Linked DNA regions of Homo sapiens. The protein of the gene in region 1 interacts with the protein of each later gene in a biochemical or structural test. Each region holds a gene or a part of one and is shown in the gene's direction. Other genes may lie near its edges. The genes, in order: CXCL14 and GPR85.

Region 1 (10,044 bases):
AAGCAAACAGCCTAGCCAAGGAGACAGGACTTGGCGGTGCCTGCACAGAGGCCTAGGACTCTGCTGCAAACATGGAACAGGGCTGGTGAGAGAGGCAGGAGGTGGGGCAGAGCAGAATGAGGACAAGTGAGGCCGGATGGAGGGGCTGCTTGTTCCCCTGTGCCAAGCAGTGGGGGACAGCTCTAAAGATGGGCCTAGACCCTCACCATGGGACTCACCCAAGCCACCAACAACTCTACCTGCCTCTCTGCAGTGCCACCTGCACAGCACAGGTGCTCATCGCCCATCGCCAGCGTCTGCTCAGTGAGGCTGAAGGCTGCCCAAGCCCTCGCTGAATCAACTGCTCCTGAGTTGCTGTTATAACAAGAACATTCTGAAAAACTGGAAAGCAAGGAGAGAAGCTTTACAACAACAATGCCCAACATTTCGCCACTCAAAGAGAATGACGTTTGTAACTCTGTCTTGCCATCCTTTGTACAGAGGTTACTGTTTTGCATACTTATAATCACAGTGTTTACACAACCTTGTGTTTTTTCTACTTACTGCATAAGCATTTACTCCACAAATTTAGAGCTTTCATTGTTTTCTTAATCCCCCATTGTTGGGCATTTAGTTTAAATCTTTATTTTTAACAAGGACTAGCTTTGCATGTGGTATTTCTCCATTATGAGAATTTTAAACAGATTTCTGAAGTGGTTAATAAGATGAAATGGTTTACTTCAAACAGTCTGGATACCATACTATAAATATAACTTCCCCAAATTTTGTACCAATTGATAGTCCCATGAGTGATGCTTAAGTGATGCTTCCTCACTTTACCATTATCAGCTTTGGATGTTGCTATTTAAAATAAACATTTCCTCATTGAGTGGGACCAAAACCAAAATGCCGTGATCCTGCAGCACTGCTGTGCTTTTCCTTCATTGCCAAAGAGGATGCATGTTCTTTGATGAATTGGTTAATTGCCTTTCTTTTTCTCCTGAATTGTCCTTTGATGTCCTTTGCTCATTTATATGTTAGGGCCCTCTTCGGAAATATCTTTGCATGTGTTCTTAATATAATAAAGATGCTTGCCTGTAAGGGAGTGTTGTTGGATGAATAGATGGTGGAATAAATGCTACTTGTTGGTTTGTCATATTTGCTGCAAGCATTTTCTCCCATGTTTAGGGGAATCTTGCAGTGCCCCCTGTGACCCATCTGAGTAACAGAGCCCCCCTACATACACTCTGCCTCGGGGCTGCTTTAAGCCTAATTCAATACTGCCTGGCTGTCCCCCACATCATTTTCTCTGGGCTTAAGTTACTCAGGATCTCTAAATATTTGCAGTGTGAAGAACAAAACCAGAGGTTGTTCTTGGGAACCTTGGTCCTTCAACTTCCTTCACCCCAGAGCATGGCCAGGGAAGGGGTCAGCATGCAGGGCTGTAGCTGAAAGAAAGCTGCACAGAGGAGGCAGCTGGCTGCCCAGACTCCACAGGCTGCAGGTGAACAGACAGAGGGAGGAGCTGGAGAGGGAGAGGCACCCGCCAGGCTTGGATTCAGAGCCAGCAGCCACACAACACAATGGAAGCAGGTATTTTGGGGTGACCCACCATGTCATGAGTGGTGATGGGGCCAGACAGGTTACTGGAGCCCAGGATCTTGCTCTGGCCTAAGTAGCTAGGTACAGGACACAGAGACAGGAGGCTGGCTAACATTAATGCACAGGGAGATCTTGTATGCAGTCAACCCCATTGCTGGGCCTCAGTTTCCTCATATGTACAATGAAGGCCAGTTGTGGCCTCAGCCTCTACCAGTGCTGAATTCTAGGATTCCTGTCCTGCCAGGGAAGTAAAAAGGACTCCTCTTCTGAAAAGAAGGTCAGTCACGAAAAGAACTAAAAGAATGGGGGAAGGAATTGCCCTGGATCCCAGCTCCCAGGGCAGAAAACCAGCCTTGACCAGTCAAGACCCCTTTCTAAGCAGACCAAGGAGGTAGTGCCCAGACACCTGTGGGATTTCCTGGAAAGTCACACTCCTGTTATCACCACCTCCTCTTCCCAGAGACTTCATCTCTAAAACAAATGCCCTGAGGATGAACTGGCTTCCCTGGGAATATGGACTCCCCATGGCCACCCCTACACACACGCAAACACACACACACACACACGCACACACACTTTCTCACATGCAACCTTGTAGCCTGTGCAGCCTGGATTCAGCAGTACTCTCACATGCTGAGCTGTTGCCTGAAACATGTTTTTATTTACTCCACAGATAGGGAGTGAACCCCTGCTACATGCCAATCACTGTTGTAGATACTGAGGATGAGCAAGACAGACACCCACAGACACAGACAGATCATCCACAATGCACCCCCAAATAAATATGAAAATGTACAATTTGAGGTTGCTGCACATACAATGAATAAACTAAAATCGGTGGCAACACAGAGAGGGACTGTTGTTGGGGGTATGCTCGTGGGATTAGAACTGGATGGTGAATATTGGAGCCCAGGCTCACTGAGGAGAAGAGGGTTGCCTGTCAGCCCCTGGGGAGGAGCACTGCAGGTGGAGGGGCCAGTGAGCACAAAGACCCTGAGGTGGGAACAGGCTTGGATGTTTGAAGGTAAGACAAGGCAGAGTATCTGGAGCACAGCCTGTGGGGAGCATGGCAGGTGCTGGTCATGATTGGGTGCGCACTGCTGGGGACTTGGCTTCCACTCTGCATGAGATCGGGAGCCAGTAAAGGGTTCAGAGCAGGGACTTCCCCCAGGAGATCACTGTGTGAGCAGCAGGGACCATGAAGGGCCAGGAGTGGCCTCCCTCCTGTGGTCACTGGTTAATTCCTTTCCATCCTTCATATCTAACTCAATGGCCCTTTCCTCCAGGAATTTGTCCCCACCTCGTCACCCTGTCAGATCCCCTGATGAGTCTCCTAGCACCAACCACCCTCCAGGACACTGACCTCTGCAGGAGTTTCACACTGATCTCTGTGGTTTATAGCTAATGTCTGCCTTCCCCACTAGACTCTGAGCTGCTTGGGGACAGGCACACAGCTGCCTTGGCTCACCTCAAACCCCCAGCACCTCGTACAACGCCTGGGACACAGTGGGTGCTCAATAAATGTAAAGAGAAGAAATAAGCAAATCCCTGGGGTCTCAGCAAAATTTCCACTCCCTCAAGGAGTGATGTCCTGTTTCCACTTCCTCCCTCCTCTGTGCCCCCACACTTCACGTCTACCTCTTCTGTAGAATCCAGTATGACCATGAATGTGTTGACATCTGCACACATGCATACACACACACAGGCAAGGCATGTGTGCTGTCCTTCACTGTACCCCAGGGACCTCCTTGAAGCAGACAGTGCCACTGTACAAAGAACGGCCTCACACATGCCCACCTGCTCAGAGGCCCTCGGCTTGGGCTCACTAGACAGTCTGTGCCCTGAAGGTGTGTCAGGGGCCAAGCCCCCTCCCTCACCCAGTTAGGCAGCATCCCCCACAGACCTGCTGGCAGCAGGGGCCTCATGCTCTCCTGTACCATGGCTCCAGAAGAACTCACACAAACAAGGGCTCAGCTCTGCTTGCACAGTGGCTGCCTTCTGCAAACCAGAGATCTGCATACACAGACTGAGGAGTGTAACTGAGGACAAAACACTGGGACGTCTGACCTCTGGTCCAGCCCAAGAAGCTGGGGAACGTTGGTCCATATTTCTAGAGCCAACTACTTTTTCCTGTGAAAACTCAGTGCCCACGATCGCTGGTGTTGTTAGATCCCAGTTAATCAATCAACATATTCTTGAAACAAACATGTTAGAAATAAAATCGTTAATAAAAAATAATACTTTACATGCTCTAGGAAAGCTTGGTATTTAAGAAATTCCTTTGCAGCATAAAATATATTTTTTTGGAAAGCAATTGGCAATTTCTATGAAAAGTCTTAAAATGGGCATGTGCCATGGCCCCATGATTCTATTTCTGAGGGCTGATCCAATGTATTAAAACCTACCCCAAAATGGAGCTACAAGAATATTTGTCAAACAGCATTGGTTGTAAGAGGGTAAGGTTGAAAACAATCCAAATGTCCAGCAAGGAGTAGTCAAATTAATTCTGGTACATCTGTATGACGGAATACTCTGCAGCTAAAATCATGATAACCGCAATGGTCAGCACATATCAAACACTTACTCTGTGTTGGGGACCACATTAAAAGCATTACATGCACTATCTCATTTAATTCTGCCTATGCTGTACATATTATTATCATCTCCATCTCACAGATGAGGAAACCAATACCAAATAGAGTTAAGGTATTTGCCCAAAGTCACACAGCTAGTCCCTAGGATGCATACTCAGGCAATTTGACTCCAGACACCAGCCTCTTAGCCATTATACTACCCGGCCTCAGATGAAACCATTAAGGGAGCTATTGTTGTAGCAAGGCTAGCCACATGGAGCGATGTTCACAATATGCTAATAGGTATAGCAAGCAGGTTATTAAAGACTACATGCAGCCTGATCCCATGTGTACATGTGCACACAAAGCAAAAAGAGGATGCTTTGGGAAGATTTCACCCAAGATTTTACTTGCGTGAAAATGTTAGTTTTCTTCTGCTTGGGTTTTCTGATTTTTCTGGGCAAACGTGTTGTTTCTATATTTTAAAAAATTATTTTTAGAGTTAAAAACTAACATAAATGCCAAAAGTCACTCCCTCATACTCATCTCATGCATAAATGCAAATGTCCAGCTATTGGCTTTGCTTTAGGTATAGGCACAACAGCACGCATAGGCGCTGCTTGCTTTTCATGGCTCAGCTTCTTCTTGAAGCAGCAAGGGCTCTCCAGTTGGGAAGAGACGACACAGATTCTTCCCATTGCACCCTTCAGCAGACTGTCCCCATCATCCAGAAGCCCTCTGGGCATTTTTGCCTCCAGGGAACTGCCAGGCTGATGGCATAGAGCTGGGTGAGCTCTCTCCTGACAGCCAAGCCCAGGGACTCCAAGAGCTTGAGATGATCCACCTCCTGTCTCTGGGTCTCTCAAGGCAGCAAGAAGTGAAGGGCAGACAGGCCTCAAAGCAACAGAGTGGTCCAGGGACAGGAGTCCCAGTTCTGCAGCCGTATATACTGAGGACCCTCCTGGCCTAGTCACCTGCTTCCTAGCTCTGTGACCTTGGACAAGTTATTTCTTCTCTCAGAGCATGTTTCCACACCTGTCAAATAAAGAAATTAAAAGTACCAACTTGGAAGAAAAGTACCAATTGGTAAGAATCAAAGTAATAGATAAATTAGACATAAAACGATGGTGCCAATAAGTAACATTTCCTGGGTACTGACAACATGTATGATTTCTATAGTTCTCACAGCCACCCTATCAGAAACACTGTGATGATCTGCACTTTACAGATGATGAAACAAAAGCTGAGAGCGGTAAAGTCACTTGTGCTGGAAAGTAGTGAGGAGGGAATTTCTGCCACTATGGCTGGGCTCACACCACTATACCTCGCATTCTGGCACAATGTCTAGAACATGGGAAGGCCTTCATCCAGATGGTTACCACTGTCATCGCTCTCCACTAGGGCTCTCTACCTGGCTTTGGAGAGTAGTGTGAGAGTGAGGACTCCTCCTGGTTCTCCCCACCACCCAGACACTCACACAGCCACCAGGCCACTGACCCACTTTAAGGAGCTTTCCTTTGGGAGTCACCAAAACTCCTCCCCAATACCCGTCCCCACCCCCGCATACACACACATACCCTCTTTGAGTCAGTTCCAGTGATCACAGTCAATGACTTTGCTGCTGGACAGTCTATGACAAGCCCCTGTCCAGAACTGGCCTTGTGTTCTGGCCCAGCAGGGGCCCTTGGGGGTCAGGCCTGCAGGCACTCACACTTGGCACCTGCTCCAAAACCCTTTCAGGTCTTTGAGGATCTGAGCCCTGGGCCTGGGTCTCCCGCCGGCTCGGAAAAGCTGGCCTGCCGGGCCAGAGAGAGAACCACACGATTCAGAAAAGCAGTGCCCTTCAGCAGCCTCTCCACCGTCTGGGCTCCCCAAAGGCAGAGCGGGACGCTGGAAATGTGTGCGCGCTGTGGTATGGGTGTGCAAGTGTGCGAAGGCGGCGTGTTGTGTGAGCGAGAGGGTAGCGGATGTGTGTGTGCGTGTGCGCGCGTGGCTCCGGGTGTGCGCCGCTGCGATAGCGGGTCCTTTCCCGGGGCGGGCGACGGGCGGGCTGGGAAGGTCTCCTCCCCTCACCACATTGAGAAATCTCAGTGAGTCACCGAGTGGTTCTGCATATTAATGAGCTCGCTCGCTGCGAGGGCAGGAGCGGATTTAAAAGAGGCCAGGGCGGGCGGAGGGAGGCTGTGGAGAGAGCGCGGAGACAAGCGCAGAGCGCAGCGCACGGCCACAGACAGCCCTGGGCATCCACCGACGGCGCAGCCGGAGCCAGCAGAGCCGGAAGGCGCGCCCCGGGCAGAGAAAGCCGAGCAGAGCTGGGTGGCGTCTCCGGGCCGCCGCTCCGACGGGCCAGCGCCCTCCCCATGTCCCTGCTCCCACGCCGCGCCCCTCCGGTCAGCATGAGGCTCCTGGCGGCCGCGCTGCTCCTGCTGCTGCTGGCGCTGTACACCGCGCGTGTGGACGGTGAGTGCGGGGAGCTCCCCTTGTCGCCGTCTCGTCTTGTCCTGTCCTGGGGAACCCAAGCGCCAATTTCTAGGCATCCTGGGATCCCGCGGGGGGTGGTCTGGGTGGGCACCAAGGTGGTCGAGGGGCAGGAGACCGCCTAGCAACTAAGCCGTTGCCCCGCGCTCGCTCGCAGGGTCCAAATGCAAGTGCTCCCGGAAGGGACCCAAGATCCGCTACAGCGACGTGAAGAAGCTGGAAATGAAGCCAAAGTACCCGCACTGCGAGGAGAAGATGGTTATGTGAGTTCTCGCTCCTCACCTTGAGGGGGTGCGCACTGCTGTCAACCCAATGCCAGGGCACAGCCTGGGCCTGGGTCGGGCTAACAAACATTTCTCTCCGACTTTGTCAAGGCCCTGGAAAAGCCTTTGTAATTGCCCAGAGAGTCCTTAGGACGCTGGCGAGACACTCTGGAAGACAGTCGGGAAGGGGGGTCACTGTCCCGCTCCGGAACAGCGCCTCCAAGTTCACCCTTGCTAGGATTCAAATGAGCAGTCTCCCTATTTGTACCATGGGCCACCCACTCTGCTAGGGCCATCAAGGGTTAAAGGGTTCCCTTGTGCCAACTCAGAAAACCTAGACTGAAATCACTTAAAACACACTCACACCCAAACTGTGAGGCGTGCTGCCTTCCTGTCACTGGATAGAGGACTAATGCAAACACTATCTTAAATCCTGAGTCTCCTTCAGAGCCTTGTTCCAGTCAGAGACAAGTGGACCGCAAGTTTTTGGCTCCTAGAGATTTTATTTTGAGAACGCTCCACGAGCTTCCCTCACCGACTGTACTCCTTGTGGGTCCCCAATACGGAGCAGTACTGCAGAAAGTGCTCTGCTGGGGTTAATGTGCCACATGGCTGGAGCCCTGCTTGGTGGGGATGTGGGGAATGTTGGAAAAACTGGGGCAGAGTGAGAGAACACTTAGTTTCTTGCTCCTCCGCCTTCCCAATTAACCACTTGAGGCCAGCACCGCTGCCTCCTCATCAATATGCTCTTGGCCAGGAAGGGAGCCCTTGGCAAAGCGGCTACCAAATATTTGCCACAGACCATTGGCCCCTCTTCCCCTCCCCCAGAAACAGGACGCACTTTATTCTCAGTCTGGGCAAGTGCCCTCCACCAGCTGGCCCCCACCGGCGCAAAGGCCTTCACAGTGTCTGCGAAAGCAGTGCACACCCCTACCCAGCACCCCCCATCCCCGTCTAGGGGCTACACTGTCAGGCTGAAATTAGGGGAATTCAGAAATCCACTGGAACTGAGCTGACCCCACTGCCTTCCTTCACAGACACCTAAATTAACTTGCTTGTCCCTACCCCTTGCCTTGCAGACCAAATTCAAAGAAAATACCCAAAAATCCTTTTGGGTGGGGGCCAAGTGTCAAATGAGCTGGGAAAGGAGCTCCAAGCTCCTCAGGGCTTCCAGTTTGGGGGCTAAGAATGACAGGGGAATTCCAAGTTAAATCTCACTCGTCTAAGAGCTGAAAACCACTCTATTAACCAAACAAGTTTCTGAGACCTTGCAGGGGAAGAAAGCAGGGTAAAGGATGCAGTGATACCTAAAAAGGACAGAGCCCTCAGTAAATAGGCTTGCTCTTTTCCTGGCTAAACTTTTCCACATATAGAGAAAAACTATAGCTAGGCAAGTGTGAGAAAGGCTTTACGGAGCCTTGTAGAAACGTGCAGGGGCCTCAGGAGATCAGCACACAATCCAATCACCCTCTACTAAACCTCTAACCCACCCCCTAGGGCCTCCCACTCCATCCCTGAGGGCTGGGGGCTCCTCTCCCCCTCCACAATCCTAAAACTCTCCAAATCAGATGAGGGGCCAGCACTTTTGCAAAGCAGGTTTTCAGCCACAAAGGCTGAACAAAAGCAAATTTTCCAGCTTACCCTGAGTCACCCAGAAATCTCTGCTGAGGCTGGGGGTGGGGGCAGGAGTAGGGGCGGGGGGAGAGGTCCGCTTTGCAAGTGGGAGTCCTTGCACCCAGAAGGATCCAGGAGAGTCCGAATTCTAGAAAGAGCAATTTGTGTCATAGGTCCATGGAGCTCTCACCAAAACCCTTACCCCCACCGCCAGAACTGTGGAGGAGAGGGTCACAGGACTCAGAATTTCTGATAGTTGCTGGAGTCACAAATCCCTATGTCTGCACTCCACAACCGATTTTCATAATCCCAGTATTATGACGTGGCATTTGAGCACTGTAGTGAGAGGGCTGAGTGACCCTTCCTGCTCTCCCTTCCTGCTCTCCCTGACCTTCAGGATTTGGGATGCACAGCCTGCACACTGACCTAACTGAGAAAGGGTTTTTATCAGGCATTACCACGTCCTTTCCTTCAGAATGCTAAAGCAGCCTTGTAGGCAGAAAGAGAAAAGCATTTGCTAAATTCCTGCAGGGTGACTGGGCACAGTGGGGGAGAGAGACAACCAGAGTTCACTCTGAAGCCTGGCCTGTGCTCAAGGCTAGAGGAATGACCCGGAGTCACAGAGGAGTCCAGTCAAGGCAGGCACCATCACCTGGCATCAGCAGGAAGACCCGCCCCTGCCCCAAGGAGCTTAGGCCCTAGCAGGGACCCCAGAAACCCAGAGCACGGAGAAGGGAAGAGAACAGGTTGCCTAGGAACATTATGCCCCCATTCTGGTGGCAAGATCCGATTTTCTTTCCCCATCAACTGGGAGACTGAAGTAATGGGAATCCTGTCCCTTCTAGAACTTAGCCCATATAAGCCATGACATTTTCCATTTGGTTAACAGTGGGGAACTAGCTGACCTCTGTCCCTCTCTTCTCACTCTTTCCACTCTCACTTCCAGTCTCCCCCTTTGCCCTCCAAGCCCATTCCAGCACCCCAGTCTACCATCATGGCTTGCATGGCTGTGACCCCTCAAGAAGTGGCATCCTCACCTCTCACCTTGCACTTTTCCAAATACCCTAGGTGGTCTCTTATTCCCCACAACTCCTGTCATGCCTGTGGCCTAGAGGTGCTCAGAAGTTCTGAGCAGCAGGCTTGCCTCGCCCTCCAGGCTGGAGCCCCCACAGCAAGGCTACTCTTTCCCCTTGGCCACTTCATCTTCCATGACCAATGACTAGTAACAGTAACTGTTAATTGTGCATCTACCAGGTCCTGGGTACTTTCTAAAGATTGTATCTTTTAATCATCCCAATAACCCTGTGAGATAGTCCTATTATTATACCCATTTTACAGATGGCCAAACTGGATTCAGAGAGGTTACCCAAGGTCCCACAGCCAAATTTGAGATTCAGTCCCAGGCCCTTACAGTCTGCACAACACCTGCTTCTCTACCACATGGCTAGGCTTCTGCTGGGTGTTGGGACATTGGCTGATAGAGGCCTGAGATCTTCAGGCTGTGCAGAAGAGAGGTCTTACTCTTCTGCTTAGGG
Region 2 (11,115 bases), on another chromosome or scaffold:
TGAAATTAGACAGATGATAGCATACTTCTGTTTTAACCAAATGTTAACCAAATTAAAGTAGTAACCATATTTATGAGGGGTGGGAATTTTAGTTTTGTCTTTGTTTTTATTTTATAGGGTTAAGTTGTAAAGTTTAAAAAAAAATAAGAGAAATGAAAGTGGAAGGACTAAACAGAATGCAAGTTTGGTTAGTCAATATGAGAAGCTCTTTAATTAGAGTCTAAGATAACTTTACTTATCTTAGATCCTTTACTTTCAGCCATGTTTTAATTACGTTCATTTGTCAAAAAGCTGAACACCACAAAAGCTTAAATAACCATAATCTGCTCATATCATATAACACATGCTCATAATAATGGTCCTAATGCACTGTATGACTGAGATAACCTCTGAATAGTCAAAGAAAAAATACTTCATACTTCTAGAGTTTTAAAAATTATATTGCATTTTTATTTCATGAAAATTTACAATGCATGTAAGATATGTGTGACTCTCCATTAACCTCAATATTAAATTAACTTCCTATTTCTTAATTATTTTACCAACACTTGCTTCTTCTTCCCACCTACCCTTCCAATACATTCACATGCACACACATTCACACCCATGACATACCCATGTGGGGGTCACTTTTTTGTTTTACATGGTTGAGGCTAACCGCATCTTAAAAAAAAAAAAGGCAAAGCTGAATGAGACAATTTAGAATATTTTAACAGAAAAAGGGCTTTTCCTCTAAGCTCTAAAGTTTTACCAGGCACTAGTAGGAAAACTTGCATTTGCTCTTCTCATTCACAGGGTCACATTTCAGTAATGTGTAATATAAAAAGAGCTTAAAGACTTCCAGAAGAAGAAACCATGCTGTATTTATTTAAATAACCATCACTTTGTTCATAAAACATCAAGAGAATTCACTCAAACCTTTATCACTGAGACAGTGCTGTCATTAATGACAAAATAGTTTCTTAGCCTGACCTCATAAGCCTTTAAGCCTGTGTCCCTCACTTGTTAATCCCTTATAGTCTGACTTTCTCTTCTGAAACTGCTTTCTCAAAGATTGCTAATGATTTTCATCATCCCCAGATCCAAGGATATCTTCTTATGTGTTTTTCTTCTAAATCTCCGAGTCACAACTGACACTGATGACCACTCCTTCTTTGAAATTCTCTCCTCCCTCAGGGTCTATAACATAGATGATCCTCCTCTTTTGGTTTGTTTTATGTCTGGTTCTTCCATGATCTTCCTGTTTCTTATATGTAGGCATTCTCTTTGTTTTTTGGTTTGTTCAGATGGAGGGGAATGGGCATACTTGTTTATCTATTTAACCTCAACCTTCTTCTCTCTCAGCAATCTCTCCCTTGGCAATGCCGCCCAATAGTTTCTCTATAAGTACTTTCTGAATTTGGGCTCTTCACTTCCAACTAAGTATAACACATCAACATTTGAATATTCCACCAGCATTTCACATTCAGCATGTCTAAAATTAACTCACTCTTTTCCTTACCAAACCAGCTCCTTCCTTTTTAACTTTTGTTTCCTCTGGTTAATGGTGTCTTCTGCCTCCCAGTTCTTCTCCAAGTTCCAAACCTGAGAGTCTGTTCTTACCCCTTGATCTCCTTTGCTTCCCTGAGCCAATTACTCCATAAGAAATATGGCTCCTCTTACTTTGCTTCTCTTCATTTTTCCTGCTCCACTTCCATCAGTTCAGGCTTTCCCTACTGTGACGTGTCCACCTGTAAACTGGTCCTACCTCCCGATTTCTTATTTCTTGCAAGGTCTAGCACAGTGCCTCATACAGAGTAGGAGGAGCTCAAGAAATATTTGTTAAATAAATTGAACAAAGGAACAAGTCTTAAAGTTTTCTGAGAGGAGGAAATTGTCAACATAAAGGGAAGAAGAAAAGGCAAACTGCTGAGTTTTCAAAAGCCTGGCAGTTAACTTTAAAATTAAAAATGAATTACATTAACACTTTGGAACCTGTTATGGGGCAGAGCAGAGAGAAAAGTCTAACAAATGAACCTTCTAGCATTTTGGAAAGAAACATGCCAGATTTTTAATCTTTTAAAAACTCATTAACATTCTGAAAAAATTTCACTGTTTGGGATGTTCACAATTATAGTTATTCCCAACTCCCAAGTCATGATTTGTCTAGCATATTATTTCACCATTCTGCTCCTCAAAGAGATGAATATAATGCCCTAAAAACTTTCAGTTACTTAGATGTCACTGTGAAAAAGGTCACTTTCTGCAGCAATTAAGATGTGAAAACCATTATCAACTAAGACATGAAAACCATTATCAAAAAAGGGAGATGTATAATCTCTCTTTCTATTGGTCACTTATTCCAGGTTGGTGATTTTTTTTTAAATAATCAATCAGAAAGTGTTTCTGTGCAAAAACCCCCAATGAGAGCCTTTCTTACCAAGATAGCTAAAGTTTTTTTTTTCCCAGTCTTTTTTTTTTTTTTAATTATACTTTACGTTTTAGGGTACATGTGCACAATGTGCAGGTTAGTTACATATGCATACATGTGCCATGCTGGTGTGCTGCACCCATTAACTCATCATTTAGCATTAGGTATATCTCCTAAAGCTATCCCTCCCCCCTCCCCCCACCCCACAACAGTCCCCAGAGTGTGATGTTCCCCTTCCTGTGTCCATGTGTTCTCATTGTTCAATTCCCACCTGTGAGTGAGAATATGTGGTGTTTGGTTTTTTGTTCTTGTGATAGTTTACTGAGAATGATGATTTCCAATTTCATTCATGTCCCTACAAAGGACATGAACTCATCATTTTTTATGGCTGCATAGTATTCCATGGTGTATATGTGCCACATTTTCTAAATCCAGTCTATCATTGTTGGACATTTGGGTTGGTTCCAAGTCTTTGCTATTGTGAATAGTGCCGCAATAAACATACATGTGCATGTGTCTTTATAGCAGCATGATTTATAGTCCTTTGGGTATATACCCAGTAATGGGATGGCTGGGTCAAATGGTATTTCTAGTTCTAGATCCCTGAGGAATCACCACACTGACTTGCACAATGGTTGAACTAGTTTACAGTCCCACCAACAGTGTAAAAGTGTTCCTGTTTCTCCACATCCTCTCCAGCACCTGTTGTTTCCTGACTTTTTAATGATTGCCATTCGAACTGGTGTGAGATGGTATCTCATTGTGGTTTTGATTTGCATTTCTCTGATGGCCAATGATGGTGAGCATTTTTTCATGTGTTTTTTGGCTACATAAATGTCTTCTTTTGAGAAGCGTCTGTTCATGCAAAAACTGGAAGCATTCCCTTTGAAAACTGGCACAAGACAGGGATGCCCTCTCTCACCACTCCTATTCAACATAGTGTTGGAAGTTCTGGCCAGGGCAATTAGGCAGGAGAAGGAAATAAAGGGTATTCAATTAGGAAAAGAGGAAGTCAAATTGTCCCTGTCTGCAGATGACATGATTGTATATCTAAAAAACCCCACTGTCACAGCCCAAAATCTCCTTAAGCTGATAAGCAACTTCAGCAAAGTCTCAGGATACAAAATCAATGTACAAAAATCACAAGCATTCTTATACATAAATAACAGACAAACAGAGAGCCAAATCATGAGTGAACTCCCATTCACAATTGCTTCAAAGAGAATAAAATACCTAGGAATCCAACTTACAAGGGATGTGAAGGACCTCTTCAAGGAGAAGTACAAACCACTGTTCAATGAAATAAAAGAGGATACAAAGAAATGGAAGAGCATTCCATGCTCATGGGTAGGAAGAATCAATATCATGAAAATGACCATACTGCCCAAGGTAATTTATAGATTCAATGCCATCCCCATCAAGCTACCAATGACTTTCTTCACAGAATTGGAAAAAACTACTTTAAAGTTCATATGGAACCAAAAAAGAGCCCGCATCGCCAAGTCAATCCTAAGCCGAAAGAACAAAGTTGGAGGCATCAAGCTACCTGACTTCAAACTATACTACAAGGCTACAGTAACCAAAACAGCATGGTACTGGTACCAAAACAGAGATATAGATCAATGGAACAGAACAGACGCCTCAGAAATAACGCCGCATATCTACAACTATCTGATCTTTGACAAACCTAAGAAAAACAAGCAATGGGAAAAGGATTCTCTATTTAATAAATGGTGCTGGGAAAACTGACCAGCCATATGTAGAAAGCTGAAACTGGATCCCTTCCTTACACCTTATACAAAAATTAATTCAAGATGGATTAAAGACTTAAACGTTAGACCGAAAACCATAAAAACCCTAGAAGAAAACCTAGGCAATACCATTCAGGACATAGGCATGGGCAAGGACTTCATGTCTAAAACACCAAAAGCAATGGCAACAAAAGCCAAAATTGACAAATGGGATCTAGTTAAACTAAAGAGCTTCTGCACAGCAAAAGACACTACCATCAGAGTGAACAGGCAACCTACAAAATGGGAGAAAATTTTCGCAACCTACTCATCTGACAAAGGGCTAATATCCAGAATCTACAATGAGCTCAAACAAATTTACAAGAAAAAAACAAACAACCCCATCAAAAAGATAGTTAAAGTTTTAAAGAAAACTTTAAAAAGGCTCTTTTTCATATACAACTTTAAATTTTGGTAACAGTTGAGAGCACCAAAGACACACGTTTTATGCTTTAAGCAGAAGACATGTCATTTGAAATGAATTACTAAAAATCTTTTATTTAGAATGTTTATTCTAGTCTATTATTCTCTGCAATTACCAAGTGTTATTTCCTGACACACACTTTCATGTAAACAATGCACAGAAAAAAACACTGTTTTTGCTGATCATGATACTATGCATCAGTTGGCAAAAATCTGAAATAGATTAATTTTGAAAGCAAGGTCATTGGTTTTTAAAATAAAATGGTATGTACTTTTTATAAGAACCAAATTAAGCAAATTATATCAGTTTTCCTAATACACTGATCAATATAGTACATGTAATATTCCAACAGTTTGTAAATCTTCAGAACCCTTCAAACCCAAGGATTAGAGCATATAGTTTTGTTGTATTTGCTTTGTTCTTTTACTCTTAACCTGAAAATCAAATTTTCTGGGTTTGGTGATGTAGGGGATAAAAAAAAAAGAAATTAGTTAAGACCAACTAAGCCTATGATCTAAACAATTTGAAGCAATAACTTTACATTTGAGAACTTGTAGATGATATGAAACTTTTGTCAGCTATTAAACATATTTTTTAAAGCCCTGCTGATGAAAGATGTAGCTTCCAATGTTTTCTCCAGTAGAGTTAATGAGCTAGATAGAAAATATCTCATTAATTTCTTGAGTCCCCTTGTGAGGCAAGAAAATGACATTCTTATCCAACAGCTGGAAAAGCTGAAGAATTAGTGGATGTAACTGTGCTCAACTGCAAAGGAAAAAAATAGCTTTACTATACCCTGAGATGTGGATATGAAAGAATATTGCATACACATATACCCTCTCCCTTATTTTTAAGGAATCAATATCTGCTTAAAGAATAAGACTAGTTAAAACCCTTGGATCTTGGCCCTATAACTTTTGGCAGAGTATATTACTGCTTCATGGCCTGGCAGTGCAGTGACTCTTTTAATTTACTTTAAAATAGCTTTTCCCTAATCTGTACAACCTAACATCTGACCAATCATGAATCTTCAGCAAACTTAAGCCTCTTATTCCATACATTTTTTAAAACTGTAAAAATTCAGGAAATAACTCTTTGCAAAGTACATTGAAGCATTTATTGGGAAGCAAAAAAGCACAAGTTGAAGTGATTTGTAGTTTCATAAAAACGAATTTGACATTTTACTTAGAAGTTGCAAACCACCACATGGTTTTGAGTTTTGAATTCATTTGCTTTGCAAAAAGTGGAATGTTTTATTTGAATGGAAATGCCCTCAAGTTACTTCCAGCATGGCTGTAGGATTGATTTTTCTAGGTTAAGGGAATGCCAAAGTTTAGTGCCTTGTGTATATTCTTTTCGAAAAAAACAAACTATTATCCATGTATTTAAATGGACGTAGGAAATTCAAGAACAAATCAGGGAAATTTAACATCATTTCAGTATTACCAACATAGGGCTTTGTGTAACGACTGTGACATCAAGATAAGGCTTTACCTCGGCTCATCCAATAGAAATACAGTATGTAAATTAACCCATATTATCTGTATGCTGATTGGCCTGAGTTCCCCTGAATGTCACAATCTCACCACCCAGCAATGAGGTATTTTACTGCTGTCTCAAGATCAGATTATTACTGTAGAGAAGATTTTTATTTTTTGTTTCATTAACAGATTATTATAAAGCAAAAAGCATGCAGAAAAAGAAGCAGACGTTTTACATTGGGAATTAATGAAAGCGTGTCTGCTAGTTTTGGGTAGGAGAACTGGGAAGTTGTTGCTTAAAATTTTATATCACCTCCACAAACAAAACTCTTCGGAAATGGTAAAATAAGAAAATGCATGATTCTAGAGGCATTCCTAAGCACCCACGTGTCAGGCTTTGTGGTGTCTGTGGTATCATCCGACCGTTTGGACTGGTGTAAGTTTTACGTATTTGTTATATTTCTAGTATTTTTCATCTGTAATAACAAAGGGGAAAAAAGGAAACTCGTACACATAACTGCTTTGACATCACCCATCATTGGTCAGCGGAACTTGTAAGAAGGGAAAAGGAATACTGTTGCTTGGTGGGGTGGAATGCCAGGAATAGCCATTTAAACATTTTATAAGCCTGATTCTTTAGTGACATCCTTTAAGGTAGACTGAATGTAAATCATATTGTAGTTGTCCTCTGAACTTAGCTTTCTCCCTACTTTTACGCATATTTGCGTGCATTGGAGAATAGAAGATGACTAACAAAGAGAGAGCTGCCCTAACGTGCCTTCCCTTCTTCCCCATTGAAAAGATTTTTAACTGTGGGAAAAAGATAAATAAATAAATAAATAACTTTTTTTCTTTTTTCCCATTCTTTTCTTGTCTTTTTCCAGCTAACCTGCAAATTTAAAGGTTAGCTGGAGACATCACTTAAAAATAAATATATAAAAGAAGCCTCCGGTGGTTTGGACCACCCTAAAAGAAAAGGGAAGAAAGTGTCTGGGGAAGGTTAGGGTTCCGGGAAGCTGAGGGAGGGGGCGGGCGTCACGGGCACTGTGACTTCCTCGTGCGCTGCCTTTGGGAAGAGGATGGGCCTGAGGTCCTGAAAGGGCCTTTCCAGCCCCCCACTACAAATGCGGGGAGGGAAAAGTTCAGAAGCAGCCACGAAGGGACAAAAGCTTAATGCTGCCAGTTGGATTGGACAGGGCAGTCAATAAACCCAGCCAGCTCTGGAGTCAGGTAGGGGTTCCTGCTGGTTCCACAGAGGCTGAAGCAGCCCCGCCGCCGCCCTCGCCACCGCAGCCGCCGCCGCCGCGGCCCCTGCGTTACTGGGGGAGACGGTGCCGCTGCGACAGGGGAGGACGCGGCTGGAGCTCAAGGAGGCTCCAGCGCGCAGGCGCCGCCGAGCCCTGCCTGGATGCTCAGTCAAGGCACTAAGGCAAAAAAAAAAAAAAAAAAAACAAAAAACAAAAAAAAAAAAAAAAAAAAGAAAAAGAAAAAAAGAAAAAAATCAGCAATTTATAGAAAGAAGCTATAGTCTGTCGGGATATCCAACACCAACAGGTAGGAGGATATACTCTTGGTTAAGTTTGGGGGATGTGGGGGAATGCACAGTGTTGATGAAACTGCAGGTTCACCGAGAAAGAGCCCTCCCTCAGGTTGTGTGTGTGTGTGTGTGTGTGTGTGTCTCTGTGTGTGTGTGTGTGTGTGTGTGTGTATGTGTTTTGTGACAATAAACTGCATAATGGAAGTACATTCAGACAATGCATCTTCAGTAGGGCTTACTGAGAGCTCCATTTCTGGAAAGCCTTACAAGACTGAGGAATATCAGACTGCGAATCACCGGGAACGGTTCCTTTGCAGCACAGAAGCAATCTCTCTCCCCATCTTCGCGTATGTAATGCATGTCTCTCTCCCTCTCCCCCTCCTCCACCCTCCCCCCATTATAAATCCAGGGGTGGCGGATTTCAGGTTTCGTAATGTTGCATGATGCGATCGGTATTTACCCGAGGATGTACCGGTGGGGAAATTAAAATCATCGAACGCAGTTTTGCCTGGGCTTCCACCAGCATATTCCGGGCCAGTGAGAAGTGGCAAAAGAAACACGCTTGGTGGGAATAACAGAGGAAGCCGATTTCCCTGGTGTGGTCCAGGCACCTGCGAGACAATGTGCATTTTGTTTTAAAAAGCAGCCACTTGTGATTTGCAACAAAGGTTATCAGTGTAAATGGGAAAGGCTTAATTGCCCAAGAAATACAGGTTCATGTTATATTCATTTGAATCCAGGCAGCCAAGGTTTACAAATGGAAGTGCATTATTCCTCTGGGTGTGTTTCCCTGTCCAATATTTACATTAACCATTTTAATAATCATGTGGGCTTAAAAGATTTGCCAGAAATGGGGGGTAGGGTGGAGAGGGAAAGACAAATGATTAAATCACATCAAATCTTGGGACAAGTAAGTTCCTATTAATTTTGAAGTTAATTTTGAAATTTTGCTTTAAGATGAATCAACAAATACTCTTATGCAGCATGAATAGTGGCACTTAAGATATATTTTGCACGGGTTCTTTGGACCCACATCAAACAGAGAAGCTGCCTGTGAAACACTGACAGATACTAATAGATCTCAAATAAATGTAGGTAGTGTCTCTGCCTCCTAATAGCAATCTTGTAGATTCCATTGCAATTCTAGTGGTTAATTCCTGGACTGGCATATTTTACAAGAATGGGACATTTTATTCCTTCTCTCCTAAAGTTACCCTATCAAATGTATATTGTCCAAAATAGGGACATTTTAAAATTCACTTAGCTTGAAAAACTAAACAAGCCAATTCTCTGAAATCTCGAGCAAAAATATTTAGTAAAGCAAATATTAGTATTCAAAATTAAAACTTTATTTGCTTCCCCATAAGTGAACAGCTTTGTTAGCACTGTCTGACATCATTGCTTGTTAACTTAAGAACTGATAGGTTTTTTTTTTTTTTTTTTTCAGATATTCTGATGGCAAAACAAGTGGAAGAAAAGAGGAAGCATGACTGCAGATCAGATCAGTTCTCTTTGTGGATTATATTTTCAGTAAAATGTATGGATCTATCTTTTCCTTGTTCTTATATCTAGATCATGAGACTTGACTGAGGCTGTATCCTTATCCTCCATCCATCTATGGCGAACTATAGCCATGCAGCTGACAACATTTTGCAAAATCTCTCGCCTCTAACAGCCTTTCTGAAACTGACTTCCTTGGGTTTCATAATAGGAGTCAGCGTGGTGGGCAACCTCCTGATCTCCATTTTGCTAGTGAAAGATAAGACCTTGCATAGAGCACCTTACTACTTCCTGTTGGATCTTTGCTGTTCAGATATCCTCAGATCTGCAATTTGTTTCCCATTTGTGTTCAACTCTGTCAAAAATGGTTCTACCTGGACTTATGGGACTCTGACTTGCAAAGTGATTGCCTTTCTGGGGGTTTTGTCCTGTTTCCACACTGCTTTCATGCTCTTCTGCATCAGTGTCACCAGATATTTAGCTATCGCCCATCACCGCTTCTATACAAAGAGGCTGACCTTTTGGACGTGTCTGGCTGTGATCTGTATGGTGTGGACTCTGTCTGTGGCCATGGCATTTCCCCCGGTTTTAGACGTGGGCACTTACTCATTCATTAGGGAGGAAGATCAATGCACCTTCCAACACCGCTCCTTCAGGGCTAATGATTCCTTAGGATTTATGCTGCTTCTTGCTCTCATCCTCCTAGCCACACAGCTTGTCTACCTCAAGCTGATATTTTTCGTCCACGATCGAAGAAAAATGAAGCCAGTCCAGTTTGTAGCAGCAGTCAGCCAGAACTGGACTTTTCATGGTCCTGGAGCCAGTGGCCAGGCAGCTGCCAATTGGCTAGCAGGATTTGGAAGGGGTCCCACACCACCCACCTTGCTGGGCATCAGGCAAAATGCAAACACCACAGGCAGAAGAAGGCTATTGGTCTTAGACGAGTTCAAAATGGAGAAAAGAATCAGCAGAATGTTCTATATAATGACTTTTCTGTTTCTAACCTTGTGGGGCCCCTACCTGGTGGCCTGTTATTGGAGAGTTTTTGCAAGAGGGCCTGTAGTACCAGGGGGATTTCTAACAGCTGCTGTCTGGATGAGTTTTGCCCAAGCAGGAATCAATCCTTTTGTCTGCATTTTCTCAAACAGGGAGCTGAGGCGCTGTTTCAGCACAACCCTTCTTTACTGCAGAAAATCCAGGTTACCAAGGGAACCTTACTGTGTTATATGAGGGAGCATCTGTAAATCTTTAGCCTTGTGAAAACTAACCTTCTCTGCTGAGCAATTGTGGCCCATAGCCATATTTTGAGAAGAAATTCAAGAATGGAATCAGCAGTTTTAAGGATTTGGGCAACATTCTGCAGTCTTTGCAATAGTTCACCTATAATCCTATTTTAAATCTCAGAGTGATCCTGCTGACTGCCAGCAAAGGTTTGTAATTAAGAAGGGACTGAACCACTGCCCTAAGTTTCTTTATGTGGTCAAAAACTAGATAATGAAAGTAGCAGGTGCTAAGTATCAGTGCTAAATGCTCTGTATGTCACTACATATGAAAAAACATCAAAAAACAATTAGCATTGGACATCTTAATAAATTAAGTTGACATGAGGTAAATGTGTTGATAAAAACTAATTTTAGAAGTTTGAAGACTTTAAAACATTTCATACTACTATTGTTTTGCAAAGACTAAAATATTTGGGGACTTAAAGTACTGTAATCCACTAAAGACGTGCCAATGAATTATTGGAATATCACACTTTAAAAACCGCCTTGTAAGTTCTGGGGAGCATTCCAAAGCAGTATATTGGTTCCAATTAGAGTTTACTTTTTTTGTATTAATACATTGCTATTTCTAAATACCACTTTCCTCATCTACTAGTAAGATTGCTAGCATTGAACTGTATTATGTGGTTTTTGTTGATTTGGTATAAAGTTTTTCCAATTCATTTATATTTTACAAATGCTAGATATTGG

What was found.
Region 2: the proteins of CXCL14 (region 1) and GPR85 form a complex in vitro, tested with the Homo sapiens proteins (one study listed by BioGRID).

Annotation. Positions count from the first base shown.
Region 1 is NC_000005.10:135,575,285-135,585,328, reverse strand, and holds the start of CXCL14 (C-X-C motif chemokine 14 precursor), read left to right. Parts: upstream 1-6,337; 5' UTR 6,338-6,550; coding exon 6,551-6,614; intron 6,615-6,789; coding exon 6,790-6,895; intron 6,896-10,044. UniProt on the Homo sapiens protein: Potent chemoattractant for neutrophils, and weaker for dendritic cells. Not chemotactic for T-cells, B-cells, monocytes, natural killer cells or granulocytes. Does not inhibit proliferation of myeloid progenitors in colony formation assays.
Region 2 is NC_000007.14:113,082,866-113,093,980, reverse strand, and holds the start of GPR85 (probable G-protein coupled receptor 85), read left to right. Parts: upstream 1-7,153; 5' UTR 7,154-7,659; intron 7,660-7,813; exon of another isoform or gene 7,814-7,871; 5' UTR 7,872-7,989; intron 7,990-9,089; 5' UTR 9,090-9,259; coding exon 9,260-10,372; 3' UTR 10,373-11,115. UniProt on the Homo sapiens protein: Orphan receptor.